Linked DNA regions of Homo sapiens: region 2 is linked to region 1. Evidence: fine-mapped QTL for protein levels in blood plasma. A gene starts in region 1. The other region holds a variant in brackets. All regions are shown on one strand. Distances are between the middles of the regions.

Region 1 (9,143 bases):
GTAAGGGGGCATGGAGATGGCTGTGACAGCCGTCCCTGAAGTCAGTCCCCAGAATCTGACCTCCTGCGAGTGTTCTGCTGGACTTTGGGAAGATGAGCGCCACTTTTCGGACCCTCTCTGCTAAGAAGAGGACTCGAAAACTCTGCTCACTGCAGAAGCACTGGCGGGACAGGCGTCCCAGGCTGGCGAGAGTGGGCACTGCCATGCTGCCCCTCACTCCATCTCGCCCCGGGTTCACACAGGGGACACTGAGCAGCAGCTGGACGTAGACAGAGCTAATGGAGTCTTCCCAGGTGGTCCCTCCTTTCAGAAAGGCCCCTCTGTCTGAGCTCCTTAACTCTGAAACCAGATAAGAAGGTGGGAGACAGGGGCCCCTTTTCTCATGGGATTAAATGAACTCAATTGACAGAGCTCTGGAAAACTTCATTGTCGCGTAACATAGTGAGACCAGCTTTGGCAGTGGTGCGTTCTTTCTCTCAGCCTCCACGGCGGTTTCTTTGCAGGATAGGGCCTCACAGTGGGCCTGGATGGCTTTGAACTGCTGGATTTAAAGACCCACTCCCACAACATAAGCAAGTATCAGAGGGTCGACAGAGCCACAGACCCTAGTCCTGAGAAAGAGGCCGCCTGGTGGGATAACAGTGCACAGGATTCAGCTTTGGGAGACTTGGTCTGCAGGCCCAGCCCTGCCACTTACTGATCCTGATCGGTGCTGTCTGATCCTGAGGAAGCCACATGTCCTCTGTGAGCTGTGCAGTCTCCCTCTGCCCCCCTCACTGGTATTTTCATGGAGGTGATGTGTGTAAAACCACGCTGTGAATTGAACACGCTCAGAGAGTGGCTAAACCTTCCAGAAGACTGGCTCATCATGAAGCAGCCACACAGGTGCTCAGACCGGGATTGATCACCTAGTCCAGGTGTCCTGCTTCACAGATGAGGAACTCTAAGCCCTAGAGAGGTAAAGGCTCTTCTCATCCTCCACACCCCTGATTACCAAGAGTAATCACCCCAGAGTGCCTTCCCTCTGTGTGAATGAGGTCTCCACATAAAGGACTGGCTTCCATTTGCAGGAGGTGGGTGTGGGCAGCCAAGGTCTTGAGGCACGGGAACTTGATTTTCATTCTTCTCTCAGCTGGGCTCATGGATCTGTTTTCGGAAGCGCAGGGGACTGAGCTGAGACAGTCACGCCTGTCCTGCAGCATCTCCAAGGCTGGTCAGCTCATCATAGCACAGGGGCCCGAGGGTGGTCCTGGACACAGCTGTACCTCAGTCCCTCCCCCACCCGCCACGGTGGCAGCAGGAGCACAGGTGGGATGGGACATGAGACCCAGGGTGGAGGTGGCGGGGCTAGTCTCCCTGAGGGAAGACTTTTCTTCCAGGTGAGACTCAGAAGTCAACCCCCTAGGGAGAGGAACTCAGCCTTCAGAGGTGCCCGATGCCTGTTTTGCTGCGCTCTCCTGGTCCAGGTGGGCTGGCTGGGTGTGCAGGTGCCAATGTGCAGCTGGGAAAGGTCCAGAAATGCGTGTTTGTGGGGGATGGGGAGCGGGGCAAGCAGGAGCCACATCGCCCGGTCAGGAGTCTCATGAGGATGGCAATGCCTGGGTGTCTCTGACACAGAGAAAGCCGAATTGTCTGGGGCAGCAGACCTGAACTTTAAGCTGAAGGGAACAAAATCGGGTGCAAACCCAAGCAGAGTCTCCTGCTTCAGCAGCCCGGGCATCCTGGGGTCGGGCCTCAGAGCATGTCTGCCTCTAGATAGCTAGGATGTCTGGAGATGCGAGTATGTCCCTGAGGCAAATACTCAGTTATCTCCAGCGTCCAGGTGATCAGCTGAGAGAGTGAGACAGTCTGGCCCTGAAGGCTGAAAAATGGACTTTCTCTGCTGGCACGGAGTTCTCTTGGCTTTCCTATGTTTTGGTTCTTAGGTAGATGTCAGAATCTGTTCCATGTGTGGGGGTAGAGGGGTGTAGCACCCCGCTCTGGGTTTGCAATGGGTGCATCTTAGCTTCTTACTTTTTTTGTGTTTTTCTTTTTTCTTTTTTTTTTTTTTTAAGATGGAGTCTTGCTCTGTCACCCAGGCTGGAGTGCAGTGGCGCGGTCTCCGCTCACTGCAAGCTCTGCCTCCTGAGTTGACACCATTCTCCTGCCTCAGCCTCCCGAGTAGCTGGGACTACAGGCGCCCACCACCACGCCTGGCTATTTTTTTTGTATTTTTAGTAGAGACGGGGTTTCACCGTGTTAGCCAGGATGGTCTTGATCTCCTGAGCTTGCGATCTGCCCACCTCGGCCTCCTAAAGTGCTGGGATTACAGGCTTGAGCCACCGTGCCCGGCCATCTTAGCTTCTTTCTGGTGGAGCCCCCTAGGAGCCAGGTGTGGGGGTCCTAAAGAGATGGGAGAAGCCCTCTTCTCACCCCTCTCCTGCCACACTCTCTAGTACTTGCTTAAAGAAAGGAGTCAGAGGAGAGGGCTGGTGCTCCCACCGCTCCGTGCTCTCAGGACAGGCAGGGAAACAGGTGTTAAATCAGCGTGACCCAAAGCTGCTCTGCCCTGCTTTTGGGGAAGCAAATACCACAAGGGCTTGCAGGGGTGCGTCCCTGGGGTGTAGTCAGCACCTGCAGTAGCCAGAGGGGCAGCCACGTGGACTCTCACCCACAGCAGTTCCCATCCTAATCATCTGTTTCTCCCTGGGTCTTTCCTACCCTGCCTTTCCCAGTGATAGAGGGTGGGAAAGATGGGGTGAGAAACAGAAGGCTGATCGCCTCCTTGTCTGGACTATTCTGCACAGGCAATGCCTATGCCCTTGGGGCCCCCAGCAGTCGGGCACAGACTGAGCCTAGTATTGGGTCCCGGCCAAGGATGCCATCACCACAAAGTGTCAGCTTAGCTGCTGCATTGCCAGGATCCCTGTTTCAGGGAACTATGACGTCTGGGCAGGTCAGTTCTTCCTTCCCTGGCACATCTCTGGTTCTGTGCTCCCTAGGGGCAAAGAGCACCCCTCTTCTGGAAGCCTTACCCTCTTTTCCTCCTGGAAAAGCCTTCACCTGGTCTTTAGGGGAGAAATTGGGGTTTAGGGCAACACAGACACCTCCTGCTGAGTCAGCACCATCTTTGCATCTAGTTAGAAATGGTCTGGTTAGGTAGCCATCCCCTGGACTCTGTTTTTCTCCCCTGTTTAGGTAAGAGCTGTGTCTGGGCTAAGGGCAGCTGGGTGGACCAAGTGTGGGTCTGGCTTTACTAGAGACATTCACCCAAAGAGCTCGTTCCAGCCCCTGCGCCCCTCGCGTTTCCACCAAAGCTTCAGCTCCTGGGCTGAGCCCCCAGGCAGAAGTTCTCTGCCCCTCCCTCTTGTGCTGGCTGCTGGCATTGCCAAGTTCTGCCGGGGCTGAGCGCCAGGTTGGCAAGGTAGTCCATGCCCCATTGATCACAACCAGCTGGCTGCACAGAAGTTGGGCAGCCCCTCTCCAGGTTCAGCTCCTTTCAAACAATGTCTTTTGCTTATGGCGACCTCCATACCCAAGGGAATCAGACAGCCATCTCTCTCCATCCCATCTGCCTTTCCCTGGGAGCCTCTCAGATCTGGAGGCAGTAGAGGGCTGAGGGGTGGGAGTGGGAGCTATTCGTAAACGCTCAATTTTCATCTCTGCTGGGAGAGGCAGGTGCCGGGGAATGCGTTGATACCCACTTTCGGGTCAGTGCGCCACGTGCCGCGGGAGATTCGGATGAGAGGGATGGGCGTCGGCAGCCCCACTCTAAACTGGAAGGGACCTGGGGGTGGGGGCGCAGGGATCCAGGGTGGCAGAAGTTCAGAAAAGAGTTACTGCTCTTTCTCAGACAGGAGAGAATCTCGTTTGGGGTAAGGCTGGAGAAGATGAGTGGGGAGGGCTTTTTTTTTTTTTTTTTTTTTTTCTCAGAGGGATTGGAAGGGGAGATTTTAGAGACGCTGGGAGGCGTCTGGGGGGCCTCCGGGCACGGCGGCTGGAGGAGGCTCTCAGTCCTACCTGCAGGTCGGCCCCGTAGAAGGCAGCCATGGACGCATCGGCCACCAGCAGCGTCTCCACGAAGCGCGCCTCAGACACAAACCGCTTGGTCCTACTCGTGGCCCCCAGGGGCGGTGGCGGCTCGCTAGCGCCTTCTGCCTCCTCTTCTTGGCTCTCCTCCTCGCTGTCCTCCTGGTGGTCTCCTCTCTCCTGCCTCTGACCCTCTCCCGTCTCCACCTCCCACTCGGGTCCTCGCGGGAGGGGGCGGGCTCCGGCGGGACCCCAGCGCTGCAGGCGGTGCGGCTGAGCCAGGGAGCCCCCCGCGCCCTGCGGCTGGATGGTGAACTCCTCGCCGTCCAGCAGGAAGGAGCCGCTCAGCCCGCGGCACAGGCTGACCGCCGCCAGCGACTCGGGCTCCCCATTCACGGTGCCGGAGAAGAAGCAGCCGCGCAGCCCCCGCTCGCCCCCGGTCGCCCGGCCGGAGCCCCCGAGGCGCTCGATCTTGAACTCGGGCGCTAGGAAGCTGTCGTCGGGCGCCAGGCGCAGCACGAAGCCCTTGCCGAAGGCGGACAGGTGGAGCGCGAGCTCGCCCGCGCTGCCGGGCAACCGCGTGGGCACCACCAGCTCCGAGGCCTGCCCCCCGGCTGCGGGCCGGGCCGGGGCGCCGCGGGCCAGCGGCAGCAGCAGCAGCAGCAGCAGCAGGAGCGGAGGCCACCGGGGGGCGGCGGGGGCGGGGAGCATGGGGGCTGCGGCGGTGGCTGCGCGCAGGAGAGGGAAGAAGCCCGCCAGGCGCGGGCAGGTGCTGGCGGCCCGAGCGCGGCCCGGCCGCTCTCTCCAGGAAAAGCGGAATCAATCGGGTGCAAGGCCGACTCGGCCCGCGGGGCCCGGCGGCGGGAGCGCTCCCCCGGCGGCCCCTCTGGCTGGCGCAGCCCGCTCCTCCCGCGCCGCCGCCCCCGAGCCGAGCGCGAGCAGCTGGCCCCGGCCCGCGTGCGCCCGTCCTCCGCCCCTGCCCGCGCCAGCCCCGCGCAGCCGCCTCCTGCCTCCTCCCCACCCCGGGAAGCACCGAGTGGGCTGCCGAGCCCTTCTTATTTATACTTCCTTCCCGGCTTGACATAAGAGGTTTATTTTTGATCTCTCACTATTCCCGTTTCCCCTCCCCTGGGATCAGAGAGAGAAACTGAAAAGAGGGAGAGAGAGTGGAGAAAAAAAAATTGGGATGAAATGCAAAACCAATCAGGCAGCGAGACCCGTCCGCCACCCGCCCCCCTGAAGTGTCAACTACAACTTCTTTCCTTTCCCTCTACGCGTGGACCCACGTTAACCCCTACCATGCTGGACTGACCCTTTAGAAAGAGTCCCTGGGAGACCCCAACCGCTTTCTCCTCTGCGGCCAAGAGTCCAGGATGCATCTTCCGAAGAGGCTCGTGCACTGGTCTCAGCGACCCTGTTCGGATCCCTGCAGAGTCCGACTGCAGAGCCCGACACTGTTGGGATCCCTGCAGATGCCTCCGGAGATCCGACTGTGTGGGGAGAAGGTTCCTGAGCTTTTCATTGTAAAGCATAAAGGGAGAGGAGGAAAAGGTCATGCTAAAATCATGCCCTCCTCTCATCACTACTGCACAGCCTTCCTAACTTTCACTCCAAACTGAAGATGGGGAAAACAAAAACAAAACAAAAAACAACCCACCTGGTTAACCCTAAGAGGGACTCTCACTGTCCTGTTAGAGGGCAGGTGGGGCAGAGGCCAGCACAGTGGTAAGTTACCAGCACTGAGGTTGGAAGTTAGCATTTCCCCAAGAGGGAAACAGACCTCCAGTCCCTGAAAAAGGTCTTCTCTTCTGGATACTGCTAGTTGCCCGGGACTTCAAGTAAGGTGGCAGGCCCTTTCACTGCGTTGCCACAGCCCCAGGAACAAATGTGTATGAGGTGAATTTATTCTGTCCCATGTCACCACTGCCCCCTAGGGAAGGGGGTAGTATTCAGGAAGAGAGGGATGACATGGTCTCAAGACCACAAAACTGCATCCCATCCCAGTCTCAATGACACAGGTCTGGATTGGGTGGAGGGCCCTGTTCTCTACCTACAAACTCTAGACTCATCCACCAACTGTGCCTTTCTCTGAGTTGTCAATGTGGGTGATGCATTAGGAACCGCTGGGATCAGGGCCTTTAAATCCTTTGCCAATTCACCTGCCCCCAGGTACCCAGCTCTGTGCTTATGCTGGGGATGTTGACAGTCGAGGTCATCGCTGATTCTTTTCAGCCCATCTGACCCCTTCCTGCAGTGTGGTGGTTCAGCATGCATCTGAGACTCTCAGGGCTTGTTACCTCCAAAGAGGAGGCTCTTGCCCAGGGGAAAGTGCTGCCAAATTCCCTCTAAGTATCCCCCCTCTCTTTGCTTTCTCAGAAACACAGAGGGACAGCTGTGAATTAGATGAAAGGATGAACTTCCCAACCTAGCATGGTGCAGAACCTCCTTTCCTGCATAATTTATAGGATAGGAATAACGAGTCTAGAATGTTTTGGGGAAACACTTCTAGAGGAAGGACAATGGAAAGAATGGTCTCTTCAACCCTTTTCTCAAAACAAGCAAAACACTTCGTCCTAGCACAGTGTACAGTGCTTGGGACATCCTGTACAGTGCTTGGGACAGTCTGACCTGGGCAAGCAATGAATACAACTCTGTGTTGCCTCAGGGCTATTGTAACAGTTCAATGACTGGTTTTTACCTCCTTGAAGCCCCTTATTTGCTGTTTCCCAGAGTACAACTCCTGATTTTCTCTTTTTGAGACACAGTCTCACTTTGTCACCCAGGCTGGAGTGCAATGGTGCGATCTTGGCTTACAGCAACTTCTCCCTCTCAGGTTCAAGAGATTCTCCTGCCTCAGCCTCCCAAGTAGCTGAGACTGCAGGCAGGCACCACCACACCTGGCTAACTTTTGTACTTTCAGTAGAGATGGGGTTTCACCATTTTGGCCAGGCTGGTCTCCAACTCCTGACCTCAGGTGATCCGCCTGCCTCAACCTCCCAAAGTGCTGGGATTATAGGTGTGAGCTACTGTGCCAGCTAACTCCTGATTTTCAGTAGCAGTTAGGTCCTGTGGGTTTTCCTTCTTTCTCGAGTGTAAGCATCTGGGAGGAGTGGGAGTGAGGAGCGTGCCCAGTTTCCCTTTCTCCCGCCCGAATGCTAAGGGCTAGAAGTGGGAGATTTAACTGAACCAAGGAAAGTCTTGAGTGTCCATGGAGCCTTTGGTTGTGAAGGCTCTGGAAGTTGCTGCTTCATTTTTATTTTAGTTTTTAATTTTTTGAGATGGCGTTTCGCTCTTGTTACCCAGGCTGGAGTGCAATGGCGAGATCTCAGCTCACTGAAACCGCCTCCAGGGTTCAAGTGATTCTCTTGCCTCAGCCTCCCAAGCAGCTGGGATTACAGGCTCCTGCCACCATGCCCGGCTGATGTTTTTTTTTTTTTTTAGTAGAGACAGGGTTTCACCATGTTGGTCAGGCTGGTCTTGAACTCCTGACGTCAGGTGATTCTCCCACCTTGGCCTCCCAAAGTACTGGGATTACAGGCGTGAGCCACCGAGCCTGGCCACTGCTGCTTCATTTTTTTAATAGGATGAAGTGCCCCCATAGGTAGCATTTTGGAAGTTCTCTTTGGAGAGAGAAGTCAGATAGTGAGTTCTGGACTTTATCCTTCCTCATTTCAACAACAACATCACCACCACCCCCACCACCCCCACCACCCACCACCGCCGCCGCCGCCACCACCACCACCACCACCTGCTGACTGGTTCATTGACTGGCCCCGCAGTCCCCGCTCCCTCCTGGATTTCCCCTTCCCCAGATGTGCAGTGCTGCTAACTTCCAAGGTAGCTCCTGCCGTTCGCAATGCAACCACAAGGTGTCAGGCTTACCTTGGCTATGTTAAACCCAGGACCTGGCTATGTTAAACCCAGGACCTGGCTATGTTAAACCCAGGACCTGGCTATGTTAAACCCAGGACCTGGCTATGTTAAACCCAGGACCTGGCTATGTTAAACCCAGGACCCTTGCCACAGGGAGCGAGAAAGGGTGGGTGGTTTGTAGTGGCCGCTCTTAGAGGAGTGGCAGGTGAAAACAGTGCAGCAAAACAAACATCAACAAACCAACCCGTGAAAATCCCATAACGGCATTCTGCCAATTCCGGATTTCTTACATTACTACTTTATTTCCCAAAATATGTAATTACGGCAGGGTTGCCAAACTACGGCCCTTGGGCTAATTGCTGCACACTGCTTGTTTTTTTGCACTCTACAAGCTAAGAATAGTTTTTATATTTTTAAGTGGTAAATTAAAAAAATTAGAAAGAATATTAAAATTTCTTGACACTTGAAAATGGTATGAAATTCAAATTTGTGTCCATAAATAAAGTTTATTGGAATGCAGCCACAGCCATTCATGTACGCATTCTTTGCTCTTGAGCTGCGAGGGAAGGGTTGAGTAAGCCTAAAATATTTACTATCTGGCTCTTTGCAGAAAAGTTTGCTGACTCCTGAATGTAAAAGAGCATCAATTTGGATTCCTCAAATTTGGAATCTGGGATTACTTAAGCTCGCTATATGCCATTCTTATGGAATAAGAAGCTCAAAATAATTGCTTGCTCTGAATGTGAAAAGGAAATTATATAAAAAATGAAAATATCTTTGTTTTGTCTTTAATTCTGTATCTAATAGTTGCTTATTATTTAATCCATCCTTAATAATTAAAAGATTTTTATGTTTATGGTGTCTTATACTGTAGGCCTATAGTGATTTTTAAGTTTTTGATCAACTTACATTATTAGTGACTGCTTATTTCTTAGTTTATAACTAGAGTTTTATATGGTATATATGATACATTTTTAGTGTATATAAGTTCTGGTATTCTTTAGAATTCCAGACTCCTTAAAACGGGAAGAAACAATGGTGATCATCTAATCCACTGCCACTCACATTTTGCAGAGAAGAAACAGAAATTCAGAGGTTTCAGTGACTTACCCAAAATGACATAACTAGTGATGAATTTTTTTCCCCAAAATACTATCGTATCCTCTACATGAAGATAAAAAAATTGTTTTGCTTTAGAACTTCATTTACAATTCGTACATTTTCAGTAAAGTTTAGTGTTTACTATGGGCCTGGGCATTGTT
Region 2 (9,143 bases), 22 kb before region 1:
ATTCCCTCCCACATCACACAGGGCAGAGTGGGAGTGGAGGAGGGCAGAGGACACGTCTCAGGGCCAGTAACCTAGGCTTATAGAAGACGTCATCACCGTCCTCATGATGTTCACCCCGTCTCCTGTTTTTTGGGGCCATGTGTTCCGAAATGTAGCTTCAACTCATCATAGGGGCAAAAAGAAGTGATGAGTCTGTGGCAGCAGAAATCTGGGAATCCAAGGGTCGTGCTACATCTAGTCCTCTTTGATAAATTCTGCCTTCCTGTTCACATTTTTCGAGAAACCATTTTGAATTCCCAAACAGCAAAGGAAATGCTGCAGGTTCCTGGAGGGACCTGGTGATCTGGGGCAGAGCACACGGAGTCGAGATTGCTGCGGGGTTCACGAGCCTCCCCTCCTGGGACCAGGGGCACCTGGGCAGGGTAGTCTGCACCACGCAGGAAAGCCCAGTACACGCAGCTGCTCAACGCTGCAGACGCCATAGCGCAGGGCTGACAAGGCCTCCCTCTTTATCTGCCCTGGACCACAAGTGGAAAATATCAAGACAAAGCAAAAGCCAGTATCCCTTAAGAACTTTCCAATTGTTCTTGTCATTTGTAGTTTTGTTTTTTGGGGGGTGTGGGGAGGGAGGGGTGGTTTGAAACAACTCCGGAGCACACTCCAGAGGAAAACAGGAAGGGTGACATGTTTGGACACCAGAAAAGAGGAAGAGTCCTCACTAAGAGGGTGACTTGGTTAAAAAGTTCAAGCACAAAGGATGTAGAAGCAGGTGGATGTCATCAGAGAACAGATGCGGATCTAGTGAGATGGGTCCTACCACCCCTGGAATATGTTCCTGGGAGAGGGGTGGTCTGCTAGAGTGGACTGGGAATAGTAATATTGCATACTTTTGTAAATTCACAAAACCCTCTGATCTGTGATAGAGGAATAAAGGGCAGAGGATAAACCCCAGATAAAGATTCACTTATCTTAAAAATGAAAGGTTGGAAATTAACTTTATGCTACTGTACCACCTTCGAAGTATTTCTGGCAGGTGCCTGGAGGATTCAGATTAATGACCAAATTACCTGCCAAGTCAGGGCCTCCCATTAGAAGAGAGTACCAGTTTCCATTAGGAGCACTAGCTGGAAAACACAATCTTTCAGCAGAGGAAATACAGTCTTCTCTCCTTCTCTGGGTGCACAGAGTGGTCGTGGTTGGCTGGGGCAGATAATGGTGTGGTCTTCCTCTGCAGATCTGGTTTCTGAGTCCCTGGGCTGCAGCTGTTGAATTTCCAGACACAAACAAGTATGCGTTCTGAGAGCCTCGCCGAGCCCACACAACCGGGAGAGCCAAGCTGGATTCCATTCTGCTTTGCACATCAGCAGCTCTGCTGCCAGCTGAACTCCAGGGCAAAAGCTGTGCCTGGTAATGATGCAGGCAGCAGGGATGGCACAGCTGGCCTGGCTTAGGCCGTTAAGGGGGACACGCTTGGCCTTATTTGGGGGAGAGCGAGAAATGGAAGGCGATGAAGAGTTGCGGAAGCATACATCAGCCTCCACAAAACTGGTGCACAGCAGGGAAACAATCTGGTTTTGCTAGTCATCAACAACATGCCTGTGTGTGTGCCTGTTTATGCTTAGGTAAGCCCAGCCTCCCACTCGCTGAAAAGAGTAGGCAGACAAGAAGGAGTGACCAACTCTGAGTCAGCTGTCATCGTGTAGAGAGCAGCTAAGGGGAACAGTGGGGCTGGAATCTCATGGCCTTGCCTAGTGCCCCTACAGCATCCTCTCTGCCCATGGTGCCAGATATCTGAATGGGAGGACAAAGGGGGCACAGGTGGTGAAAAAAACCAAGATGCACATTTGGGTATTTTCCTTCTTTTGCTAGAATGTCATTTCTTGATGTCTGTTTCTTGTCACCCATTTGTGATCAGGGACTAAGTAAGTTCCCTCTGCACCAGACCAGGTGGAAGACTGAGCCAGAGTTCCTCTGAGCCACAGGAGAGATGAGGAGCTATGGAGCGGAGTAGGGGCTGAGGATCTGGTGCCCCCAGCTAAACTAAAAGGAGGCAGGCAGCATGTAAGAGGATGATGGGGTAGCTCACAGAGAGGAAGGGGATATTCTTTCTCAAGAATGATGAGCCCAAAGGCATCGCATAACAATTGTGATCTCCCAGCTGGACGTTTCCTGTAGCACAGGTGTTCACAGTGTGGCTCCCAAACCAGCAGCCTCCATGTCAGTCACTGGGAACTTGTTAGAAATGCAGATTCTCAGGCCACCCCAACCATTAGATCAGAAACTCTGGGGATGGGGCCCCACAATCTGTGTTTTCTTTTCTTTCTTTCTTTCTTTTTTTTTTTTTTTGAGACAGGGTCTCACTGTGTCATCCAGGCTGGAGTGCAGTGGCATGAAAATGGCTCACTGCAGCCTCAACCTCCTGGGCTCAAGTGACCCTCCCACCTCAGCCTCCTGAGTAGCTGGGACTACAGGCCTGTACCACCATGACCGACTGATTTCGTTTTTTAATTTTTTATAGAAACAGGGTCTCGCCATATTGTCATGGCTGGTCTTGAACTCCTGGGCTCAGGCAATCCTCCTGCCTCAGCCTCCCAAAGTGCTGGAATGACAGGTGTGAGCCACTGTGCCCAGCCTCACAATCCATTTTCACAGCCCTCTACGTGATCCTAATGAAACCTTGGGAACCACTGGTCTAGATCCTGCAAATGAAAGTTGCCCGAATGAGCTGGATTCTGCAGGCCTGTGAGGACCCAGAGCAGGCAGGGATCCAGCTGCTGACCTAGTTTCAGCCTCCATCCCTGGGTTCTAGGTTGCTGCCCTTTCCAAAGAAACAATGAATCAGACCAGACCACTGCATTGGCATAAGATCACACTTTAGTTCAGAGACACATTTGCATAAATACTTGAAATGGATCCACCCCTGCAGGTGGCAGCCTGAGAACATGTGGCTCTCCAAACCCTGCGACGCTGCGGCCCTTTAGGTGATGGATTTTAACACTGAAGACAGTCGTGGTCATTCTTGAAGACAGCTTGGGGTCCAGCTTTGGAGCCTGCTTTGACATTCACCATTGACTCCCTGCCCCACGCCTCTCTTGTACTAATTTTTTCCCCTGTGAGGTAGATTATTTATCGGGGAAACCAGATAGAATTTTTTTTTTCATTTAAGTTTGCTAGTCCTTTGCAAACAGACTGACGCTGAGTGTCCTGTCTGAGTCAATAAGTGCACTTTTACCTTTTAACCTATGCCCTCTACTTGAACCCGAGCAAGGTCCAGTCCACTGGACAGTTGATGATAGGGTCTGCCGCCCCATACCCTCTCCTCTTCCCCCTTAGGAATTTGTGCAGTACTGGAGGGGTTGCGGCAATGGGAGGCCTGGGTGGGCCGTGCTGCCTTGATATGGCCAAGGGACCCAGTCACCACAGTGGAGACCCTTGTCTGCACCTCAGTACCGCATGTCCAGGAGCACAAGACTGGCCCCTGCCCCCCTGAATCACAGGGGGCACAGCTGGCTTTCGCAGGGCTTGGCATCCTCGGGTTTCAGAGCCTTGTTGCAGGTGGCAGAGGCCTGGCCGGAGGGGTCCCTGCACTCTACAGTTCGCCTCTGCCAGCCGGCCCCGCAGGTGCTAGAGCACTCAGACCAGTCCCCCAGCACCCACTGTGCGTGGAGCAGCGGCTGGATGATGTTGGTGGTTGCTCTCTCTTTGCTGCTCTGCATGCTAAAGTCCACGTCATTAGGAACAAAGAAGGTGTATTTGACTTTTGGGGGGAAGACCTCGCCAGGGACTGTCAGGAGCTGCACTGTCAGAGGCTCTGGCAAGGGCCGGAAGCTCTGCAGGCGCTCCAGGGTGGCGATGGAGCCGCTGTACTTCAGGATGGTCCCCTTCACCAAGATGTCCTGCTCTATGGCAGAGATGGCCAGGTTGCCGTTGAGCAGGTACTGCCCATCAGCCGTCTTCAGCGCCAGGTAGTTCCCATCGTTCTGCACACCCGGGTGGCTCCGCTGCTTCACGTCAATATTAGTGGCACCAGCTGGGATGGTGACAATGTCATTGTAGCCATAACTGTGATAGAAACAGAAGGACACCCTTAGACCAGTGGCTGCCCAGCCCAGGTCACGATGATGCCTTGGAGACTGAAGTGGGCACCCCAGGTGGCAGACACGAAAAAAACAAAGCAAGTAATTAAGCAAGTTGCCTCAAAGTTCTCAATAAATTAGCTGTTTAGGCAGACAGAAATGTCTGTACATTGGGATTTTCAAGGGTGTTTGCTTCATCTGGCAACTCTATTTCAAAAGTGTGGTTGAGGAGTTGAGGTATGTGGGTGTTGAGAACAGCATAGAGACGAGGAGAACCCAGAAGGATGTGGAAAGCTGCACTGGTGTAGCCAAACCTGGCACCTGTCAAATGTGATCTCAAATACCTCTAGCTCCTTGCACTGGTATACAACTTTGATTGGCCACCTCCATACCCAGAGCTCAAACCCACATGGAAAAAACTGTTCCACACACCCCTTCCAGAACGTGAACAGGAGGGAAATTTCACACCACCTCTCTGAGTCAGTCGGCTCCTAGTATTTGATGAATATGGCCCTAGGGTGGGATCAGGGTGGGGTTGGGAGTTGGGGGTTTAAGCCTGCTTCTTTGAAGCCACCTTCTGGGAGTGCCCAGGCACCATGAGCACTGTGCTTCTGGAATGATAGGAAGCAGTTTTGGGAAACTGTTTCCAGTCCATTATAGGCTTAGGGCTTTAGGTAGGATGAAGAAAGATTAGTTGTTTGTTCTTTTCTGGAAATCTGGGTTCCATAGGCTGGGGAGAAAGTGAGGCGAGTGGTCAGGCGGGCTTTTTGCTTTTCTTACCATATGTCCAGCTGGGGCTAGCTGCTTAGTTTCAGACTCTTAGAGTGTCCACAGGCCCATCTGTCTAAAGCCTGAGGGAAAGTGGCCAAGGGACCCAGTATCTGAATAGTGTCTGCTTCTCTTTTTCTATGTCTTTTGAGCTTAAATGTAAAAAGAGTTCCAAGGCAGGGCGCAGTGGCTCATACCCACAATCCCAGCACTTTGGGAGGCCAAGGCGGGCGGATCACTTGATGCCAGGAGTTCAAGACCAGCCTGGCCAACATGACGAAACCCAGTCTCTACTAAAAATACAAAAATTAGCTGGGTGTGGTGGTGCATGCCTGTAATCCCAGCTACCTGGGAAGCTGAGGCAGGAGAATTGCTTGAACCTGGGAAGCAGGTTGCAGTGAGCCAAGATCGTGCCACCGCACTCCAGCCTAGGCAACAGAGTGAGACTCTGTCTCAAAATAATAAAAATAAATTAAAAAAAATGAAAACAGTCCCAAGTTGCCTGCTGTAGGCTGATTCTGTTCTCTCAGACTGGTGAGATGAGAGATGTAGAGACAGACAGACAGACAGACAGACACACACACACACACAGAATGGGGCAGGGTTTGCGAGCTTCACTAGGTAGAATACAATACAGTGAACACTTCTCAAAAACTCTGAGACCGTGAGTGGGGGAAGTGGCTGGACAGGTGGATGCTCACATAAGCCCTAGGACACATTGATGTACTGGAGGCAGACAGGCAGAGTGTGGCCCATATAAAACACCCGAACTTGCCCTTACTCTGCAGGAAGTACATGGAATGGGAGACAAAAGTCATCCAGGACTTAGGAAAACTAGGTTCTCTTCTGGCTGTCATTAACCATCAATGTGACCTTAGAAAAGTCATTTAATCTTTCTGTGCCTTAATTTCTTCCTCTGCAAAATGAGGAATAGTATTGGCCTTGCTCACCTCATGGACTTATTTTACAAATCAAATGAGACCATGGAAATGAAAGCGCTTTGGAAAATCCTTGGAGTTTTATGAATGTGGGGCATTAGGATGAGAAAAAAGTGTCTGGAGTTCTCAGATTCATGAAAGCCCTGAGGCTGCCAGGGCCCCTTTTTGGTAACCCCCTTCTCTGAAGATCCATCTGCAGAAAGGACAGGGGCTTGCCAGGCTTAGGGTGAGACGTCCTTCCCAAAACAGGCCTGGGAGAGCTGTTTTCTGGCAGAGGTCCAGGTTACTCAGTGTGGCTCGATTGACTCAGAGATGACAGCTCCCTATCCACATGGCCTCCAGCCCTCGTAAAAGTCACGGCTGCCCTGTGTTCTATCTTTTCTATGAGCTCGACACTGCCAAGTGCACATCCCATCTCAGGAAATCCTTACAACGACTCTGAGATAGAGATACTGCTGACATTTTACAAAGAAACTGAAGCTCGGAGAGTTTAAATAACTTGCCCAACCCTCACAGCTATTAAGTAGCAGCCACAGTTCAATTTGGGCCTAGCAGAGTGCAAAGCCCATTATGCTCTTCTACCAAGCAAGGTACAGAACTTCTGGGGAGACTCACTTGGTGGGGGTGAGGGACCCGGAGACCTTCCTGCAGGAGTTGCCTTTGCCCCCACACACCCCGCATTTGTCCAGCTTCCGAGGCGAGTCCACCACATGGTCACAGCCGGCCTTGACACACTGGCCACGGACACAGATGGCCAGTGTTTCTGGCCCACACAGGGTGCCATCAATCACCTGCAACGGGGAAAGGGAAGGTGAGGGAGGGCGTGTTGAGCACAGAAGCAGCCTGCCGGGGGGCGGGGGTGTGGGGACAGGCGACCTTCCTCCCCATCTCTGGATCTGAGTCCCAGGGTGATTCTCACCTTGGCCTCGAACACTTTGAACTCGCTCCTCCCCCGGGCTCGGCAGAACAACTTGCAGCGGTCCCGGGGGGACACCCCAGCATACTTGGGGACCCACTGCAGGAGATTCC[C/T]GTCCATGTCAGTGTAATTGTAGGCATTATACTTCTCACACTGCTGCTCCCTGAAGCTTTTCCCTAGAAAGAGGAAGAAACGGCATGGAGGTGACACCCATGCGGAAGCAGGAGCATCCGGTGGAGAAATCCCGAATTTACAGCACTTTTCTTCTTTCTTTTGGTTTTGAACTCAACCCAGGCGCCCAGGGCCAGTGTCTTCTGGGCACAACATTCCTAGACGCATGTGTGACCCTTACTCAAAAGGGCAAGGAAAGGAGCCTCCAGCCGCATGCTGGGCTTTCTAGGATAAATGCCCTTTCCATTAGGGAAAGAGACTCATTGTACTCTACAGGTGAATAAACGCAGGGAGCAACAGGGAACAATTCAGTAAGCTTGGAAGGCACAGAATGGCATGTGGAGCTATATTCTCAGGACACTACTAATTGTGCAGTATCGATTTCCTCAGTGACACCGGACATGAATCCAAAGACTCCTAAATCTACATGTCTAGCTCTGATCTTGCCCCTACACCCACATTCCGTAATTCTGGGTGTCCCTGGGGAGCTCCGTTTGTATGTACTGTGATTACCTCCAACTCAGCATGGCCAAGCTCCCGATGGTCCTTCCACGAACTGTCTTGACTTTCATTTGCTGATCTTACCATGCCCAAGTCTGAGACTGGTATCCTGGTATCTCCCGAACATTTGAGCATCTCTATCTGCTATTTCCAAACTGTCACAAAGACCCACACTATATTCAGGACAATCTGTGATTTAAAACGATGGCATCCCACTCTCACCACCACAAGCCCAGGCCTGCTGGCTTCATGGGGACCTGTGCCTGCCTCCTCTCCATCCTGCCACGTGCTGCTGCCAGACCAACCCATCTGAAGTTAGATGTGGGTTGCTTTCCACCCCCAAATCCTAAAATTAAAGCTGTTCTTCCTGCCAAGGTTCCCTGCCCAAACTGTGCATCTGAATGCCTGGGGAGACTTTGCCAAGGCAGATGCCATACTCCACGCCTGAGACTCTGAGTCAGTGCAGCTGAGGGGGTCTGGGCTGTGTCTGCAGGAGCTTCCAGGTGACTTAATGGGACAGGTGGCACAGATAACTCCCAGATACTGTGTCAGCCTTCAAGGACCTCTGTGGTCTGGCCTTGACATAGTGGTGTGCTTTGCTTGATTCCACCTAAGTGAATGAGGGCCCTTCTCACACCTTTCCACCACCCTGGCAGGTCCCCTCACACCTCACCCATCTCAGTCCTCCAGACTCTGCTCAGTCCTAACTCCTTTCAAAGCTTCCGCTCACCCAGCCTTTCCTTTCTCCGAGCGCCTCACCAACCTAGGGTCTGTGACTCATCCATTGAAATGTAATGGCTGTGTTAAAGGGATTTGGGTCTCTAATTGGACTACAAGCTCCTTAGGGACAGAGACCATGCCTTTTACATTTTCATACATTTTTATAGTTCTAGACACACAAAAAATACTAAAAAATACTCGACAGTAATGGCAGACTTTGGTGCATCTGACATCATGGCATCACTTTTCGTCCACACCTACCTTGCACCCTATATTCATTCTCATCCTCCCCCTTTCCCAGCAACGTCTCACCCTGTATGCCAGGCAAACTCTCATACAATTCCAGGGCAAAGTTTCTAGAGCCTCAAACCATTGTGGATCCTTCTTGTCTTGTGAAACCGCAAAGCCTACAGATTCTCCTGAGACATCAACCCAATGCCAGTGTCTTTTCCCGTGGTTGAATCTCTCCTAAGGCTCTGCCTGATTTTTCTTGCCTGCCAATCCTTCCTGGAGCTGCACACTGGGCAGTTGGATGGGATGGTGGGGAAAAACCTTGTAATGATTTCCCTCTCACGAGTTTGCTGCTGCCCCTTTACTGCCTCTAAGTTAATGTTCATGGTTTCCAGCAGGTACTGGGGATAGGAATATGCCAAGGGGAGGGAGAGGTAGTATTCCTTCCTGGGAAGATTCTGTCAAACAGTTGCCATGTTCCCAAGGGAAGATGGGCAACTCTTCTCAGAAGGAATGTGAACAGGAATCAGATTCAGAAATCCTCCCTCTGCCCTGGGCTGAATTTTGGCTAGAAAGACCTTGGAGGTTTGGCTCTGACACTTGCTTTGGAAAATGCTTCCATTCTGCACACAGATGAGGGTTCCTATGCCTCCAGGAGGATTAGTTTCCTAGACACCAGCCCCTCTGCAGAGGCTCCTCCCCAATAAGTTTGGTTGGGAGTGATGTCCTCCTCTCCACATCTTGGAAGATGAGCGTAATTTCTCTCCTTGACTTTGCCAGGCTCTCTGAACACTATGAGAGCTGTCCCGGGTCCCTGAGAGC

Alleles and levels. Alleles are on the strand shown, and positions count from the first base shown. The strength of an association depends on the size of the effect and on how common the allele is.
With allele C in place of T in region 2, the plasma level of the protein whose gene starts at base 5,042 in region 1 is higher (moderate association).

Evidence for each region. PIP is the posterior inclusion probability: the model's chance that the variant is causal. The UK Biobank Pharma Proteomics Project read protein levels with antibody pairs (Olink). The fine-mapping took linkage between variants from a reference panel, not from the people measured, so its PIPs are less certain.
Region 2: its variant is fine-mapped to the plasma level of the ADAMTS8 protein (UK Biobank, PIP above 0.99). The variant lies in the coding sequence of ADAMTS8. If it changes the protein, the assay may bind it differently, which can mimic a change of level.

The regions. Positions count from the first base shown.
Region 1 is chr11:130,423,568-130,432,710 of GRCh38, forward strand. It overlaps ADAMTS8 (ADAM metallopeptidase with thrombospondin type 1 motif 8), which reads right to left and starts at 5,042. Exons shown (of 9, transcript NM_007037.6): 1 at 4,000-5,042. The coding sequence starts at 4,719.
Region 2 is chr11:130,402,067-130,411,209 of GRCh38, forward strand. It overlaps ADAMTS8 (ADAM metallopeptidase with thrombospondin type 1 motif 8), which reads right to left. Exons shown (of 9, transcript NM_007037.6): 7 at 6,702-6,874; 8 at 6,398-6,573; 9 at 2,857-4,062. The coding sequence ends at 3,492. It overlaps ZBTB44-DT (ZBTB44 divergent transcript), which reads left to right. Exons shown (of 7, transcript NR_148980.1): 7 at 1,235-1,591. Among named protein-coding and RNA genes, the nearest start is that of ADAMTS8, 22 kb to the right of the region's middle. The variant C/T (reference allele first, on the strand shown) is at 6,812.